4 linked regions of the Homo sapiens genome follow. The protein of the gene in region 3 purifies or fractionates together with the protein of the main gene of each other region. This does not show direct contact. Each region holds a gene or a part of one and is shown on either strand. Other genes may lie near its edges.

Region 1 (4,921 bases), on a different chromosome or scaffold from region 3:
AACTAATTCGTTCTGGATGTTTAAAGAGTTAGCTCCTCTAGTCCTGGGCATTTAAACAGACTTGACAGATAAACTTCCTTTAAAATAAACTCATTTTTAAGATGACACAGTGAATACTTCTGTGGGATTCCTGGAATAGTCATTTCTTCTTGGAAATTTGCCCTCATTCCTGGAGTGCCCACTGACTGCGTTTTCCTGGCCCTTCCCATTAGGTGTGTGTGTGGAGCAGGAGATGTGTGTGTGTAGGTGGGTGTGTGTGTGTGCTCTATTTAAGCCTAAAATTTTTCTTGTTGCCACCCTGCCAAGCCCCTACATTTGAGGGGTTTCCTTCTAGTCTGTTCTCGTCTGTTCCTAACTTGTCTGTTAGCCACCTCCCCTGAGTTTTGCTAAATTGCTATTTGTCAGTTAAACTGCTTTCCTTCTCTTATCACCAGAATCTCTTCAAGGTTAGAGGGCAGACATCTCAAGAAAAATTCCATTAATTTCTGGATAAAATGTCAAAATGGTACTGAGAAATAATGGCCAGCTGACATTAGCATCCAAGCCCAAGGGAATGTAGTCAAAATGATAATACTGTCGTGGGGAAAGCAATCCGCTGCCGCAGTGAGCGCATTTTACTGTGGGGATAAATATGCAGTGCTTCCGCATTCTCTCTCACCCTCAGTTAAAATGCTACTCTGAACATTAGCAGTGATTCCATTCATTTTTTGCCTTCAGGATTGATAAAGCCTAACAGTCCACCCCCTCCTGCCCCACACCCCATCCACCCACATGCATGCCCCATCACTGGTGGAGATGTGGGGCCCTACCCAGGAAACTGTGGGAGACTTGTCCTTGTTTCGTCGCATCACCTACTGAGGGGGATCCTCTCCTTCCACACTTTCCTTTGCCCCAACCCAAAGCTGGGGTGCTCTCACATGGTGCCAGCCACTCCTCTGACAGTGACCTACAATCCAGGACTGACCTAAGCTAGATTTCAACAAATGTGCATGTTGGGTAAAGAGATGCAATGCTTAGAAGTGGTGCTTTGGCCAGGCATGGTGGCTTATGCCTGTAATCCCAGCACTTTGGGAGGCCAAGGTGGGTGGATCACCTGAGGTCAGGAGTTCAAGACCAACCTGGCTAACGTGGTGAAATCCCATCTCTACCAAAATACAAAAACTAGCTGGGGATGATGGCAAGTGCCGGTAATCCCAGCTACTTAGGAGGCTGAGGTGGGAAAATCGCTTGAACCTAGGAGGCGGAGGTTGCAGAGAGCAGAGATTGCGCCTTTGCACTCCAGCCTGGGTGACAGAGCGAGACTCCATCTCAAAAAAAAAAAAAAAAGAAGTGGGGCTCTGCTAGGCACCATCACAACTTGTGGAATCTTCCCACCTGTCTCCTGAGGACTCACTGGGATGGGACCTTCACTGTAGCTTCAAGGTGATTGGGCCAAGGCTGTGGCTGTATGGGAGAATGTTCTGGATGATAATGGATCATCAGTGTGAAATTAGTATTTATATTATTTATAATTTAAAAGTAGATTCTGGAAGAAATGGGTTGTATCCAAAGGAGTATGTTTCTAATGAGGAGAGATTGTCTAACCTGGAGCAAAGGGAAGGAAACCAGAAGCAAGGAAGCAGGTCACAAAGCCGAGATGCTGCAAGATTTCTGCACCTACCGTAGGTCAGGCCTGAGGAAATAGAGGGAATAAACTCTGCTACCTCCAGGCAGACCCTAAGAACTGCCTAGACACAGCGTGATTATACAGATGACTTTCTTTTTGGATATTATAAAGATGATTTTCTTTTTAAAGCTTCCCCATTCATGAACCATTTCTAATTTGAATAACGTACACTAAGCATTCATTCACTCATTCATTTACTTAACAGTCATTAACCTGTCAGCTTTGCTGCTTACTGATTGTTATTCAATCTCACTTTCCCTCAAATTTCTTCCTGGTGAACTAAGTGTAATAAAACTACCTACATCCTAAGGTTGTTGTGAAGACTGAAGTGTGTGAGTCACGGATAGCAGTGATGAGTCCACAGTAAGCACCCTATCTAATGTTTGCATTTACTGGTCTGAGTTCCATGTGCTATCAACTGAAGAATCATAAGGTTCATGCATTTGGAAAGGAGGGTTTTATTTCTTATAAAGGGTTGCAGCCTGCAGGCTAGCCATCTTGCAGGCTGGGAAGCGTAGCCTCTGCCCAAAGCGGAGAACAAGTACTTGGAGGAGGGGCAAAGGGAACAGAAATTTATCCTGAGCAGAGTGGCTGAATATTCACATTCAGTAGGATATGGGAGGAGTCATGAATATTTATGAAAGGGGAAACAGGTGCATGCACAGATGAGCTTAATGCGCTCATAAAACTGTAGGGCCAACTTACAAGTAACACAAACAACCAAAAATGGGTGCCCCAATCTTTTCTATCACAAGACTCTGCTACCCTGTATCTTCATGCATTTATGCATGTGTTTTCTTGTTTTATTATTTCATTTATTTATTTATTTTTGAGATGGAGTCTGGCTGCATTGCCAAGGCTGGAGTGCAGTGGCACCATCTCGGCTCACTGCAACCTCTGCCTCCTGGGTTCAAGAGATTCTCCTGCCTCAGCCTCCTGAGTAGTGTTATATAACAGTGTTATGATGCGTTTATATACATGGTGGACATGAATTCTGGATCACGTGCTCAAAAAATGGCAGCCTTAGCATGTTCCGAGGGTTGAGTTTTTGGCCCTCTGATGTCAAAAGGTGAAGCAGAGGACATGAAAACCCTCACTACGTATCCTCGGGAAGTCAGCCAAAACCAGTCGAGATGGTGATCAGTTTTTAGGAAGGGATGTGTTGTGAGACTGGTGAGCTGTCACATCCAAACTGCAAAGAGGGAGGAAAATTTGGTTGCAGTTTCAGATGGTTAGCTAAAGGCGATAAAGGAATAGATTATCCATTTCTTGTTTTTTAGAGCTGGTTTCTGCTTACACTGAGGAAAGAATTCTGGTTAAAGATTAATAAGGAAGAGTCATACTATGGCGTGTTTGACCTCTCATCCCATAATGGCTGGGAACTCAGTTTTTAAGGTTTCTCTGGGATCGCTTTGGCCAAGAGAGGCTGCATTCAGTCAACTGGGGGAGCTTAGGATTTTATTTTTATTTCTCAATGCCAAACTAGGCTGTGGCACAGAGTAAACAACGGAGAGCAAAGAACAGACACTGTTTCTGCCCTTAGCTAGTGTACCTTCTAGTTGTGTGCAGGCAATGAACAAGTAAGTCCAGAAAACATCATGGATAGGCTGGGCGCGGTGGCTCATGCCTGTAATCCTAGTACTTTGGCAGGCCGAGGTGGGCAGATCACTTGAGGTCAGGAGTTCGAGACCAGCCTGGCCAACATGATGAAATCCCCTCTCTACTAAAAATACAAAATTTAGCCAGGTGTAATGGTGCACGCCTGTAATCCCAGCTACTCGGGAGGCTGAGGCAGGAGAATCTCTTGAACCTGGGAGGCAGAGGTTGCAGTGAGCCGAGATGGTGCCACTGCACTGCAGCCTTGGCAATAGAGCCAGACTCCATCTCAAAAATAAATAAATAAATAAAATAATAAAACAAGAAAACACATGCATAAATGCACGAAGATACAGGGTAGCAGAGTCTTGTGATAGAAAAGATTGGGGCACCCATTTTTGGTTGTTTGTGGTACTTGTAAGTTGGCACTACAGTGTTATGATGCTATTTATAAGCATGGTGGACATGACTTCCAACCTGAAACCCACCCTCCCTGGGGAGTCTTGCCCTGCTTCCCTGGGCCAAGATAGTCAATCTCTTCTTTGCACCTCTGCAGCATGTATACACCTCTCTACTTAATGTTTTCACACAGCATTGTGACTCCTGGACACCAAGATGGAGCAGGGTGCTGCTCCCCTAGTGGGCTTGACCTGCCTGAGACTATCTCTGCATCCTCAACCCCTAAGGCCTAGCCAGTATTATGGAATGAATCACCTAAAATATGTTCCACCCTGCATCTCTCTAGGGCAAAGCATCCAGTGGAATCCCACCTGGTGTTTACTGTGGGCAGAGGTGAATCTGTGGTTTTTGCTTTGCTATTAAACCAGAGGCAGCCATAGAAGTTCCAAGTGTTGTAAAACCCAAGTGCTTCCTCCATCCCTACCCACTCCCATTCAAGCGATTGGACTTTAAAGGAGAATTTCCAAGTAACTTGAACTCTTCAACATACTGAGAATTACTATAACTGATACTGTTTCCTATCCAGGTGTTCCACCAGGTGTGGTCAATATTGTGTTTGGAACCGGGCCCAGGGTGGGTGAGGCCCTGGTGTCCCACCCAGAGGTGCCCCTGATCTCCTTCACCGGGAGCCAGCCCACCGCTGAGCGGATCACCCAGCTGAGCGCTCCCCACTGCAAAAAGCTCTCCCTGGAGCTGGGGGGCAAGAATCCTGCCATCATCTTTGAGGACGCCAACCTGGATGAGTGCATTCCGGCAACCGTCAGGTCCAGCTTTGCCAACCAGGTATGTCCCCGGGGGTTCTTCTCCCTCCCCTCCATGGCCCTGTCAAGCTGGATCTGTTTTATCACAGTGCAATGCCTGGGAGCAAGCCAGTCAATCCAGTGCCATTTCCGAGAAAGCAGGATCAGTACATTGTGTGATTCCCTTAACTCTCTGCTCAATTTTAACATTAATTAGTGGCCTTGCAGAGTCACAGCTTCTGTTCAGCAAACTCCTCTTCTTGAGTTGCACAGCTTTTATCAGGTACCAGCCATGGGTGGAATGATTGATGTTGCTGCTCCAAGCATCTCCATTTCTTTATTCACACAGCTGCCCTGTCTTGTCTTTTATTCTTTTCTTAAACCCTGTCTTTGCTTGTCGTTCAAATGTCCTATTCCCAGTAAACCTTACTCTCATTTCAAAAGTATTCAAAATGCGTTC
Region 2 (4,394 bases), on a different chromosome or scaffold from region 3:
CTCAGGAAACTTACAATCGTGGCAGAAGGGGAAACAAACACGTCCTTCTTCACATGATGGCAGGAAGAAGTGTTGAGCAAAAGGGGGAAAAGCCCCTTATAAAACAAACAGGACTTGTGAGAACTCAGTATCATGAGAACAGCAGTGTGGGGGTAACCACCCCCATGATTTAATTACCTCCCACTGGGTCCCTCCCACAACATGTGGGGATTATGGGAACTACAATTCAACATGAGATTTGGGTGGGGACACCGCCAAACCTTATCAAGGAGGGACTCTGCAAATGTGGCAAGAACTCCTCATTTCGTGACTTCCTAACCCATCAGATACTCCTTGAAACCTTATCAAATTGTTTCACTGGATAAGTGCTGGCTAAATGCTTGTTGAGAAAATTAAAAACATGTTCAGGCCACTGTCACAAGAATGAATAATTATTTGGAAAATAGGTGTTGGTGGGGCCACAACCATGCCCTGAGGTAGCAGCCAGAGAAGAGGCTCCAGGAGCATCCTGTGGATGCCAGAGCAGGCTCACGTGGCACCTGCAGGGCAGCTGGCTCAGGGCAGGTTGGAGGTCACCTTAGTCACTCCCTCTTCAAGGAAGTTCACTGTCCTCCACTCCTGAGGGTGCCACCGTACCAGAGTTTCCTTCCTTGAAACAAGCCATGGTAGCTACCTCCAGCCCTGCACAGCAACTCGTGCTAGCGAAGGGGGCAGTGAACAGGGGCCAGGTCACAAGGACCATGACCCTCGGGGACCACAGGGCCAGGATGTCATTCTCAAAACCATGAAAATCCATGCCAAATATAACAGCAGATTATAAGGCCAACAAAGACTTCTATGTACATGCAAATCTATTAATCACTAAGGGCTAAGTCACTAAACTACAGCTTTCCCATGATGCTCACCATCCATCCTTTGCGGAAACCAAAATGCTCACAACTGACCATGGTGTTCACTTAGTATACTAGCTTAAATTAAAAAAAAAAAATTAGTACAGCATCACAAGTGAGAAGTGTTCCAGGAAGTGTTCTTCAACAATATCCTCAAGCATAAGGTATGAGGAAAATTATATTGGCTTTGCATAAGGAGTGAATGATTGAGAACAAAGAAAAGAGTATACTGCATTCATTTAGTTAGTCTGAAAATGATGTTGCTAGAGAAGGCTATTTAATCAAGAAAAGTACCTCTGCAAGTTGGAGAGAACTGTACTTTCTGAACATAGCAAGAAAAATGCCCATACTTTTGCCCTGACATTCTTAGACACCTATTAAGAATGAGGAAAAGTAAGGTACCATCTATGTATCATATTGTAGTGAAAACAATCACACGTTACCAGAGCTAGAGAAGCCTGGGTTCAGGTTCATTAAGTTCTCTACAGATTGCTAATGGATAACCAGAGTTGAAATTTAATACTACATCAGGAAGTCCAAGGGTCATAATCATACTTGACCCAAATGGCTCACACTAATGAGTCATATTAATACTGGAGGGTAACTGTTTTGTTTACAATTAGCAGCTTATTATCTTGAAGTCAATCTCAGAGACACAAACAAACACATTGACTTTACAAACTCTTTAAATAAAAGGTTCTGTATCTTGATCCTGAAGTATCCTGTAATAGCCTACAGTGAAAAGAAAACAATTCTGAGGAAAAAGATCTCCCCATGATAAAAAACTGAAGCAAACAAAAAGCATTTCACTCTTTTTTTTTTTTTTGAGACTGAGTCTTACTCTGTTGCCCAGGCTGGAGTGCAGTGGCACAAGCTCGTCTCACTGCAAGCTCTGCTCACTGCAAGCTCCACCTCCCAGGTTCACACCATTCTCCTGCCTCAGCCTCCTGAGTAGCTGGGACTACAGGTGCCCACCACCACGCCCAGCTAATTTTTTGTATTTTTAGTAGAGACGGAGTTTCAACGCATTAGCCAGGATGGTCTCGATCTCCTGACCTTGTGATCCACCCGTCTCGGCCTCCCACAGTGCTGGGATTACATGGATGAGCAACTGTGCCCGGCCAACAAAAAGCATTTCTATAAAATAACAATAAAAAAAGAGTTAAAAAAGCAAGCTTCCACTTTATTAAAAAGCAAAAATTACCAACTCGTATAAAATAATTTAACTCATAAAAAGGAGAATCAAACATTACTTTTTAAAATATCAGATACCATAAAATGTGCATTTAGTCTTTTAAATAGTTAAACTTTCAGTTAAACTATTAAACACCTAGCTTTTCTCAGAAAGCTGTTGCAAACCCAAGTACTGTTCTGACTGTACAGAAATCAATGATCCTCTTCTTTAGCAGAATAAAGATGTAACTCCCTTAAATGACATTCACCTTAATATTACCAACTTAAATTCTGCTTCATTACCAGAAACAGTGTTTTCAAGAACTGGATCTTTCTAAATCCACTTTTATTTTTACAACAACTTTACTATTTGATTAAATTCACTGTAGAAAAATGTGAAGACACAGAAAGATTCAAAGAAAATAAAAATTATCCCAGTATCCCTCCCCCAAATACAATAACAAGGTTATATATATTTCTTTCTAGTTTTTTTGTATATTTACATAGCATTTTAAAGCAAAACTAGTACTATAAAATGCTACCATATCCTTTTTTCACTTCATATATAGAGCAACCGTGTCTTTTTAGGACATTGAAATATGCAAAAAGGATTTTCAGTTGGCTGATTCACAATCTAATTATAACTAAGACATAATTTACCTCCAATTGCAAGGGATTCAGATTGTTTCAATTATTTATTATTATAACTATCATTATTAAACACCCTTCTTTATATATAATTCTTTGTATGCATCTCTGATATGGTTTTAAAGAGAAATTGCTAGATGTAGAGTTCCCAGCACAAAGTACGTCCGTATTTTTAAGTCTTTTGATGCATTTTACCAAATTGCCCTCCAGAAATACTGTACCAATTTACAGTCGCATCAATAAATAACCAAAGAGTCCCATTTCTTCCTCACATTCTTTGGCAGTATAGGAAAGTAGAGATTACCCTCCACCCTTTATTGTTGCAAATTTAATAGGGGGAGAAGAGAATGGTGGGTTTTTTTTTCCCCCTTAAAATGTAATATTTTTTCCCACATGTTTACTAGTCATTTGCTTTTCTTCTGTATTTTGAAGTTGTCTAAATCATTCAGGAGTCTCTAATACACACAATGTCTTGTCTTTCTTACAACATACTCTTTGATAGGCAAGGGCATGAAAGCTGCATGTCTTTCCCATATTTTTTTCAAGTTAAGCAGGAATTCCCAAAATGACTGGAATTAGAATGTCTTCTTTTCTCCTGGGCAGCCATGCTACTTTAATGTCTTGGTAATAAAACAGAAAACTGGGCCATATTCTGAAAGGAAGAAAGGAGGCAGTGATATTCACATGTTGGCGTAATTACTGAGATGTTTGTTAAAAAAAAAAACAGATTTTGATTTTCTAGATCAAAGTGAGGACGCAGGAAACATACACTTTAAATAAATTCTACAGAAAATTTTCAAGTTCACTAACCAGATGTGGAACTTCGGGTACTCTAAACTCTTGGTTCCTCACCTCCCTTTCCTGTAAAGTGAGGTTAATAATGCTTATCTCAGAGCATTGTTCTGATAATCACTTATTGCCATACCAGCCCCCAGCCTGGATTATTGTTTATGCAACCTCTATCCCTTATCCTTACCCCACTGTAAGAAATCATTGAAATTTTTATGTGTCTATATCTCCAAACACCATAGGATCATCATCACAACTCTTTATCTTTGCAAACCAGACCTTGACGTATAGCAGGTGCTAAGTGTTTCTGAAATGACTTAGTGAGGGAATGAATGATACACATTTCAGTGCTAACAATACTACCCCAGAAAAAGGGATTATTAGTATGGTGTTCCTTAATGCTGTAGCATGAAGACCAAGATTCTCAGTTTTGTCTAGAGCAGGAATTCCTCATTTTCTCTCTTTAGGTTTTATATGTGTGTGTGTGTATATGTATGTATGTGTGTATATATATACACATATATATAAAATCCTCCTTTGAAAATCCGATGAAAGCTACGTAAACTAAGCCTCTTTAAAAATGCATACAAATAAAATCACACAATTTTACAATTTCAGAAGCTCCAGGAAAGGAGAACACTGATTTCTACTCTTCAAGCATTTTTACTTAAAAATAAAGCTAAAACAGTAAATATATTATTTGAGAAATTAACTTCAAGCTTTTGAAAGACTATGGTCAAAGTGGGGTTAGTTGGGAGACTTAAAAAAAATAAACTTGGCTGGGCGCAGTGGCTCATGCCTGTAATCCCAGCACTTTGGGAGGCCAAAGCGGGTGGATCACGAGGTCAGGAGTTCAAGACCAGCCTGACCGACATGATGAAACCATGTTGGTCA
Region 3 (4,921 bases):
CACCCACGCTCCCGGTCTACACCAGACACTGTCCCACCCACGCTCCCGGTCTACACCACTGTCCCACCCACGCTCCCGGTCTGGGTTTGAAGATCACTAGACACTCAACATTCGTCTGATTCTTCTCCTTCAAGGCATTTCTCCCAGTTCAGAGCTTATTTATTACTTTTGTTATGATTATTTTTTGAGAGAGTCTTGCTCTGTTGCCCAGGCTGGAGAGCAGTGGTGTGGTCATAGCTCACTGCAACCTCTTAACTCCTGGGCTCAGCCTCCCGAGTAGCTGGGATTACAGGCATGCACCACCACGCCCAGGTAATTTTTGTTTTCTTAGTAGAGATGGGGTTTCACCATGTTGGCCAGGCTGGTCTCGAACTCCTGGTGTCAAGCAATTCTCCAACCTCGGCCTCCCAAAGTGCTGGGATTACAGGTGTGAGCCACTGCGCCCGGCCAGAGCTTACATATAATGCATAATACAATGCTGTGTTCACTTTTGCATGCCTCCGCCATCAGACTGAACTGCATAAGGGGTAGACCATGTCCTTCCTGTTCACCAAGGAATCTGAAGTACCTGGCACCTCACGGATGCTCAGAAATATTTGTAAACGAGGCCGGGCACAGGGGCTCATGCCTGTAATCCCAGCACTTGGGGAGGCCGAGGCGGGCGGATCACCTGAAGTCAAGAGTTCAAGACCAGCCTGGCCAGCATGGTGAAACCCAGTCTCCACTAAAAATACAAAAATTAGCCAGGCGTGGTGGCAGGTGCCTGTAATCCCAGCTACTCGGGAGACTGAGGCAGAAGAATCGCTTGAACCTGGGAGTTGGAGGTTGCAGTGAGCTGAGATCACGCCATTGCACTCCAGCCTGAGTGACAGAGTGAGACTCCGACTCAAAAATAAACAAACAGAAATTTGCAAACGAGTGAATGCAGCAGCTACATCCACCTCGCTGTGTGACTCTGGGCAGGTGGCTGCCCCTCTCTGGGCCTCACCTTCCCCGCCAGGGCGAGAAGAGACACCTGCACCTGCGTCATGTTCCCACTCTCAAACAGGTCGTTGGCCTCGAACAGGTCCACAGGGTTCATGCCGTAGCTGACCATGGCCTTGATGAAGTTGGACAGGTTTTCTAGCTGGGAAGAGGCAGGAGAGGGACAGTGAGTGGGCCTCAGTCTCCCCACCTGTTAGATGGGCCCCCAGCACCATCCCTGCTCCGCTCCACCAGCCCCTCACCTGGTGCCAGTTCTGCATGGAGCGGTTGATCTTGGGGACGGAGCCCGGCTGTAGCTTGTTCATGAGTCTGGAGGGCACAACATGGGGCGGGGGAAACAGAAACCTCTGTGAGCAGCGAGGAACCGTGAAGACCCGATGCTGATCTCAGCCAAGCTCACGCCTTCCTGGGCAAACTCACGGCCTCTCTCTGGGCCTCAGTTTCCACTCTTTTTTTTTTTTTTTTTGAGACGGCGTCTAGCTCTGTCACCCAGACTAGAGTGCAATGGCACTATCTAGACTCACTGCCACCTCCACCTCCCGGGTTCAAGTGATTCTCCTGCCTCAGCCCTGAGCCTCCCGAGTAGCTGGGATTACAGGTGCCTGCCACCACACCCGGCTAATTTTTGCATTTTTAGTAGAGATGGAGTTTCACCATGTTGTCCAGGCTGGTCTCGATCTCCTGACCTCGTGATCCGTCCACCTCAACCTCCCAAAGTGCTGGGATTACAAGCGTGAGCCACCATCCCAGGCCTCAAGTTTCCACTCTTATAAAGTAATCTTTGGCTGGGTTTGGTGGCTCAGGCCTGTAAGCCCAGCACTTTGGAAGGCCGAGGCAGGCAGATCACGTGACGTCAAGGGCTCAAGACCAGCCTGGCCAACATGGAGCAACCCCATCTCTACTAAATATACAAAAAAAATTAGCCGGGCATGGTGGCAGTCGCCTGTAATCCCAGCTACTCGGGAGGCTGAGGCAGGGGAATCACTTGAACCCAGGAGGTGGAGGTTGCAGTGAGCCGAGATCATGCCACTGCACTCCAGCTTGGGCAACAGAGTGAGACTCCACCTCAAAAAAAAAAAATTATTTATTTAGCCACCACGCCCAGCTAACTTTTTTTTTTTTTTTTTTTTTTTTTTGAGATGGAGTCTCGCTGTGTCACCCCGGCTGGAGTGCAATGGTGTGATCTCGGCTCACTGCAACCTCCGCCTCCCGGGTTCAAGCAATTCTCCTTCCTCAGCCTCCTGAGTAGCTGGGATTACAGGTGCCTGGCTAATTTTTTTGTATTATTAGTACAGACGGGGTTTCACCATGTTGGCCAGGCTGGTCTCGAACTCCTGACCTCGAGATCCACCGCCCCCCGCCACCACCCTCGGCCTCCAAAAGTGCTGGGATTACAGGCATGAGCCAGGCCATGCCCGGCCCCCCAAAAATTTCTTAATTAAGAAAAAAAGTGAGAAAAACCAAGATTTGTTAAGTGTGAGACAGCCTGTGTCCCTGCGTGTACTCACGTGCATAAGATAGTTCCATCCTTCAGGCCCTTCTGGAAGTCGGGGCCGATGGAGAGGCCGGTGAGTCCCTCGATCCAGGTGCGGAGCTCTGCCTCCTTCTGGGGGTCATATTTGGACAGGAGCTGGTGGAGCAAAGGGCACGAGACTGAGCTGGGCTGGGGGCACCCCCAGCAGGAACCCCACAGAAGCTCTGCAGAGGGTGGGGCCGGGGACTCCAGGGCAACAGCAGATAGAGCGGCCTGGAGGTCCCCCCTCACCACACCCACGCAGATGCTCCCTTTTCCCATCATTGGGGGCGCCCCAGCCACTGCAGGCGGGCACAGATAAACCGCCCTCCAAGCAGGCCGACAACCGGCTTAGAACTCACTGATAAACATCAGCTCTAATCCACTCCCGGTGCAGGACAAACCTGGCCGGATCTGCCTCCCCGCCCTGCCTTCTCACCTCCCCGCTATATCACACCTGACGTTTACCACTTCAACCACCTGAAACCGCACCATTTCACAGCATTTCGTACGTCTGCAATGTTGTGCAACCATCAGCTCTTTTTTCTTTTTTATTTTTTTTGAGACAGAGTCTCACTCTGTCGCCCAGGCTGGAGTGCAGTGGTGCGATCTCGGCTCACTGCAAGCTCCGCCTCCCCGGTTCAGGCCATTCTCCTGCCTCAGCCTCCCGAGTAGCTGGGACTGCAGGCGCCCGCCACCAGGCCCAGCTCATTTTTTGTATTTTTAATAGAGACGGGGTTTCACCGTGTTAGCCAAGATGGTCTCCATCTCCTGACCTCGTGATCTGCCCGTCTCAGCCCTCCAAAGTGCTGGGATTACAGGTGTGAGCCACCGCGCCCGGCCCCCATCCTGCTTCTTAGCAACTCCCGAAGGAGCTGCCCCCGAGGCTGACCGCCTCTAGTCACGCACCTGGCTCCTTGCCACCGATTCCCTGCCACCTTTCTGCACCCGGCCATTCCAGCTTTCTTGGCCTTCGGTGCTCTGAGACACCGCCGTGGGGAATGGGCTGTGTGCTCCTGGGCAGTGGGTGTGCACCAGTGGGGACCTCGAGTGTCCCTATCCAGCCACTAGTGACCGCGGAGACAGCACTGAGGCAGACGGCAAAGTGTATAGGGGGCCATAAGCATGGGGGCAGGTCGTGTAGCGGGAGCGGGAGATAAACGCTGGAGGGAGAATAAAGTAGGGTTTGGGCTGGGTGCGGTGGCTCACACCTACAATCCCAGCACTTTGGGAGGCCAAGGCGGGCGGATCATCTGAGGTCAGGAGTTCGAGACTGGCCTAGCCCACATGGTGAAATCCCGTCTGTACTAAAATACAAAAATGAGCTGGGCGTGGTGGTGGGCACCTGTAGTCCCAGCTACTTGGGAGGCTGAGGCAGGAGAATCGCTTGAACCCAGGAGGCAGAGGAGGCAGTGAGCCAAGATCGGGCCACTTCACTCCAGCCTGGAACAGAGTGAGCCTCTGTCTTAAAAAAAAAAAGAAAGAAAAGAGAGAAGGAAAAAAAAAATCAAATCCCTCTCCCTGCTCTGCACCCATCTCCCCAGGTTCCCGCGGACAGCTCCCCACTCAGCCTCCGCTTCCTCATCTCTTCCTGGGATTATTTGGGTTAGGGTCCCCTGACCTGGACCTGCCTGGGATGATTTGGGTTAGGGTCCCCTGAGCTGGACCTGCCTGGGATGATTTGGGTTAGGGTCCCCTGAGCTGGACCTGCCTAGGATGATTTGGGTTAGGGTCCCCTGAGCTGGACCTGCCTGGGATGATTTGGGTTAGGGTCCCCTGAGCTGGACCTGCCTGGGATGATTTGGGTTAGGGTCCCCTGAGCTAGACCTGCCTGGGATGATTTGGGTAGGGTCCCCTGACCTGGACCTGCCTGGGATGATTTGGGTTAGGGTCCCCTGAGCTGGACCTGCCTGGGATGATTTGGGTTAGGGTCCCCTGAGCTGGACCTGCCTGGGATGATTTGGGTTAGGGTCCCCTGAGCTAGATCTGCCTGGAATGATTTGGGTAGGGTCCCCTGAGCTGGACCTGCCTGGGATGATTTGGGTTAGGGTCCCCTGAGCTGGACCTGCCTGGGATGATTTGGGTTAGGGTCCCCTGAGCTGGACCTGCCTGGGATGATTTGGGTTAGGGTCCCCTGAGCTGGACCTGCCTGGGATTATTTGGGATAGGGTCCCCTGACCTGGACCTGCCTGGGATTATTTGGGTTAGGGTCCCCTGACCTGGCACCTGCCTGGAAACAGCTCGTAGCCCAGAGGAGGCAAAGGCGGGGAGGCCCCCCAGTACCAGCTCACAGCCCACCCAGCTTGGCTTTCCACGCCCGGGGGCAGCCCCGCCCCGCCGGCAACTTTGATCCCGAGGAATGAGAACGGTGGCTGCTGGGTACACAGCCCTGCCTTGCCCAGCTGCGCCGCGTCTCTGCCGGCT
Region 4 (4,063 bases), on a different chromosome or scaffold from region 3:
CCAGACTCTCCAGCCACACCCATTGTACACGCATTATCTCATTCAATCCTCATGACAACTCTGGAAGTGAAATCATGTTAGTGCACCCATTTTGCAGATGAGGACACTGAGGCTTAGGGAGATGGTGTGTGACCTTCCCAATGTCATATGTCTAATAAATGGCAGGAATGGAATTCAAACCATGGTTTACTAAACTCCAAAGCTGGAGCCCTTCTACAGTCTCAGGATCTAGAACAGGGATTATTACTATCTCTGCTGTTGACATGAGGAAACTGTGGTTCAGGGAGGTCAAGTGACCTGCCAAAGCTTGTACACATGGAAAGTAGTAGAACCAGGATGCAAACACATTTCTTTACCACCAACACCAATATCTATTTTGCCAACAAAACAATGAGGGGGCCTGAGTAAATAATCTCAACGGTTAACTCCACCCTCCAATTGAGATACTTTTTTTTTTTTTTTTTTTTTTTGAGACAGGGTCTGGCTCTCTGTCACCCAGGCTGGAATGCAGTGGTGCAATCTGAGCTCACTGCAGCCTCTGCCTCCTGGGTTCAAGCCATCCTCCCACCTCAGCTTCCCAAGTAGCTAGGACTACAGGCACATGCCACCATGCCCAGCTAATTTTTGTATTTTTTGTAGAAACAGGGTTTTGCCATATTGCCAAGGCTGTTCTCAAACTCCTGGGCTCAAGCAGTCCTCCTGCCTCAGCCTCCTAAAGTGAGCCACCACACCCAGCAGCTGAGACACTTTTTAATTCTGGGCTAGGGCAAAGAGAAGTTGGAAGGAAAATGGGTGAAAATAAAGAAGTTCTCAGTTATACTGCAGCTTGTTCATGCCTCCTGCCTCGGGATGCCGCAGTGGCTGCCCCAGCCCTGCCCTTTCAGCCTCAGCCCTTCCCTCAGTGAAGGAGAGAAAAAGTGATTTAACAAAGTGAGGACTGTCAGCCCTTGGAGCTTGGACCTTTGAGATCTCACACTGCCCCACCCAGTAGCTTCCCCTTCCAGTAGCGTGGCACCACCTTCTGACCCACCCCTCAGTGTGTCCACCAGTGAGAGTGGTTCCTAAGGGAGAGTGTGAAGCACACGTAGGCACTGTCTTACACCACACCTGCTGAGTCCAAACCATGGGAGGCTCCTCTCCTAGACCCTGCATCCTGAAAGCTGCGTACCTGAGAGCCTGCGGTCTGGCTGCAGGGACACACCCAAGGGGAGGAGCTGCAATCGTGTCTGGGGCCCCAGCCCAGGCTGGCCGGAGCTCCTGTTTCCCGCTGCTCTGCTGCCTGCCCGGGGTACCAACATGGCCCAGAAGCGTCCTGCCTGCACCCTGAAGCCTGAGTGTGTCCAGCAGCTGCTGGTTTGCTCCCAGGAGGCCAAGAAGTCAGCCTACTGCCCCTACAGTCACTTTCCTGTGGGGGCTGCCCTGCTCACCCAGGAGGGGAGAATCTTCAAAGGTAAAGGTGGGCACCCCAGGGTCCCCCAGCCCAGCAGCCTGGGTGGTGGGTCAGAGGAAGATGTACAGGAAGAGGCGCAGAGGCACAGGCAGTGGCAAGAGCGCGGCTCTGTCCCTTCTTCCCCCAGTCTCCGCTGGAATGTTCCTACCCTGCCGACTGCCCCAGACCGCGCTCAAATGTGGCTTAAATCCAGGGTCTTTCAATGCTTAGAGGACTGGGATGAGGAAGGAAGTTGGATGGGAGGCAGGAAGGGGAGGCCATAAATCAAAAACATCAACAGTCCTGGGGTGCAGGCAGGGAGAGCGTTCGTGCTTTCCCAGCCTCGGATATGTCTGGCACCTTACTGAGGCTTCCACAACACTAAGTCCACACCTCCTGCCCACTGACCTAAGTGTTAATGCTCGTCTTTAGATGAAACTACGGAGGTCTCGAGAGGTGACATGACTTGCCCAAGGTCACACGGGGCGCTGGTGGTGAAACCCTGGGCTGGAGGTTCCCCAAAGCCCTGCTCTCTTCCTTCCACCCACTGTGCTCAGTGCTGGCCAGGGTGGTGACGTGTTTGTCGGGGGTGGTCGGTGGAGAATCTTGGAGGAGAAAAGCCAGCTGGGCTTTCGGAGTCCAGCAGTGAGCAGCGCCCTGCGGGGCGGGGGCGGGTAATGGAACCTGAGCCCATCTGAGTCTGCTCTAATCTGTTCCTAAACTCTTTTCTTTGATTTATTGCTTTTGTAGAAAAGTTCATGTGAGCAAAAATTCAAGCTTGTTTTTGCTAAGCTTAGAGGCATTCTCCTTCAGGGCAGTAGGGGACATGGTGTGGAGGTACCCCTTGGTATTATTCCCTGTCTGTTGAGGTTCTGTCGGGTGTGACTTGCCTGGGTCTTAAACATCTTTGAGTGGGAGAAGCAGGTTTGATTGAGTGCTAACAGCCTGTGAAAGGAAGGTGATTAATGCTATCCATTTAACCCCTGCAACCCTGAAAGGCAGAGAAGGAAACAGGTTTGGAAAGTTTCAGAGCTCAAAATCACAGAGCTGGGATTGGAACCCAGACTTCCCCTGACTCCAAAAGCTGTTGCTCTGTGGGGAGTGAAGGATCTCTGAGTACCGTGTTGAAATTCAGACCTGTTTTGGTGGCTGAGGTGAATATTAAACATTAACCACCACCACAAACAACAAACATTCACCACCACCGCAAACACCATTGCAACTCACAACATTGCAGAATCTTGAATGTGGAAATCAGCCCTTGATTCTTTCGAAAGCCTCCACATCCTTTCCAGATGGCACAGAAAGGGCCCTCCTACAATCCCCCGGCACCCACACTGACCCCTCCTGCCGTGCTTATCACATGGTGTCATCACTGTCCACTTATGTATCTGCCTCTCCCTTGGGACTTTGTGCTGCAGAGGGCAGGAGCTGTGTCTTGAATCTTTGTGCCATTGACTTTCTCGTGCTGTGACGTAGCACCTGCCTGGCTCAGAACAGGCACTCAATAACTGTTGAGTGACTGATTGGATGAATGAATGAGATGAGTACGTTTGGAGAAGCAGAAGGAAGAGGGATGGTGGGGCAGGTGGTGGTGATGGGGGCTCAGCATGTTCGGCCACAGCATTTCCTGGCCTGTGGGGCCAGCATGGCTGCCTTCCATCCATGCTTTCCAGCACTGGAACTGGTGTTCTGCTTGGAACAGCAGGAGGTCAGACAGCCTCATCGTGCCTCCAGAGCCAGGGGACCCCCATGCCAGAATGCTTGGGTCCTTTCTTGTTTTAAAACCCACAATAGTCGGGCATGGTGGCTCACGCCTGTAACCCCAGCACTTTGGGAGGCCGAGGCAGGCGGATCACGATGTCAGGAGATCGAGACCATCCTGGCTAACACGGTGAAACTCCATCTCTACTAAAAATACAAAAAAAAATAGCCGGGCGTGGTGATGGGTGCCTGTAGTCCCAGCTACTCGGGAGGCTGAGGCAGGAGAATGGTGTGAACCTGGGAGGCGGAGCTTGCAGAGAGCCGAGATCGTGCCACTGCACTCCAGCCTGGGCGACAGAGCGAGACTCTGTCTCAAAAACAAACAAACAAAAAAAAACAAACCCACAATAAAGGAGGCACACTTTCACTCATAAGTGACACCTGGGAGCTCCTTCCAGTGAAGTCCACACCTCTGTCACCCTCATACTGATCATTCAACAGATATTTGCTGAACATCAACTCTGTTCCAGGTAAGGTGCCAGGTGCTGGGGATATCACAGTGAACAGGGATGACACAATCCCTGCCCCCATGGCAGTCCCCTCATATTGCATAGGTGATGACTGAAGGCTCGAGCCTCATCCAGTGGAAGGAAGGAATGGAGGAGATAAACAGGACTGTGGCCCATTTGCATTGCAGGGAAAGACCTGGTGTCACCAGAGAAAGGGTTGTGTGATGGGGATTTAGAGAGTGAAATGGAGGCTTCAGAGTCAGAGGTTCCTGGGTTGGAAGGCTGGTGTTTATCAACTGTGTGACTCTGGGTGAGACCCTTCACCTTTCTGAGTGTCAGCTCATACATTTTATTTATTTATGGGTTTTTTTTTGTTTTTTTTTTTTGAGATGGAGTCTCACTCTGTCACCCAGGCTGGAGT

Evidence for each region.
Region 1: the proteins of CNN2 (region 3) and ALDH8A1 fractionate together in Homo sapiens (co-fractionation; one large-scale study listed by BioGRID). This does not show direct contact.
Region 2: the proteins of CNN2 (region 3) and MTAP fractionate together in Homo sapiens (co-fractionation; one large-scale study listed by BioGRID). This does not show direct contact.
Region 4: the proteins of CNN2 (region 3) and CDA purify together in Homo sapiens (co-immunoprecipitation; one large-scale study listed by IntAct). This does not show direct contact.

Annotation. Positions count from the first base shown.
Region 1 is NC_000006.12:134,932,359-134,937,279, reverse strand, and holds part of ALDH8A1 (2-aminomuconic semialdehyde dehydrogenase), read left to right. Parts: intron 1-4,247; coding exon 4,248-4,504; intron 4,505-4,921. UniProt on the Homo sapiens protein: Catalyzes the NAD-dependent oxidation of 2-aminomuconic semialdehyde of the kynurenine metabolic pathway in L-tryptophan degradation.
Region 2 is NC_000009.12:21,860,945-21,865,338, reverse strand, and holds part of MTAP (S-methyl-5'-thioadenosine phosphorylase), read right to left. Parts: intron 3,364-4,394; coding exon 3,325-3,363; 3' UTR 1-3,324. UniProt on the Homo sapiens protein: Catalyzes the reversible phosphorylation of S-methyl-5'-thioadenosine (MTA) to adenine and 5-methylthioribose-1-phosphate. Involved in the breakdown of MTA, a major by-product of polyamine biosynthesis.
Region 3 is NC_000019.10:1,028,764-1,033,684, reverse strand, and holds part of CNN2 (calponin-2), read right to left. Parts: intron 2,615-4,921; coding exon 2,493-2,614; intron 1,294-2,492; coding exon 1,227-1,293; intron 1,127-1,226; coding exon 989-1,126; intron 1-988. UniProt on the Homo sapiens protein: Thin filament-associated protein that is implicated in the regulation and modulation of smooth muscle contraction. It is capable of binding to actin, calmodulin and tropomyosin. The interaction of calponin with actin inhibits the actomyosin Mg-ATPase activity.
Region 4 is NC_000001.11:20,587,834-20,591,896, forward strand, and holds the start of CDA (cytidine deaminase), read left to right. Parts: upstream 1-1,263; 5' UTR 1,264-1,296; coding exon 1,297-1,450; intron 1,451-4,063. UniProt on the Homo sapiens protein: This enzyme scavenges exogenous and endogenous cytidine and 2'-deoxycytidine for UMP synthesis.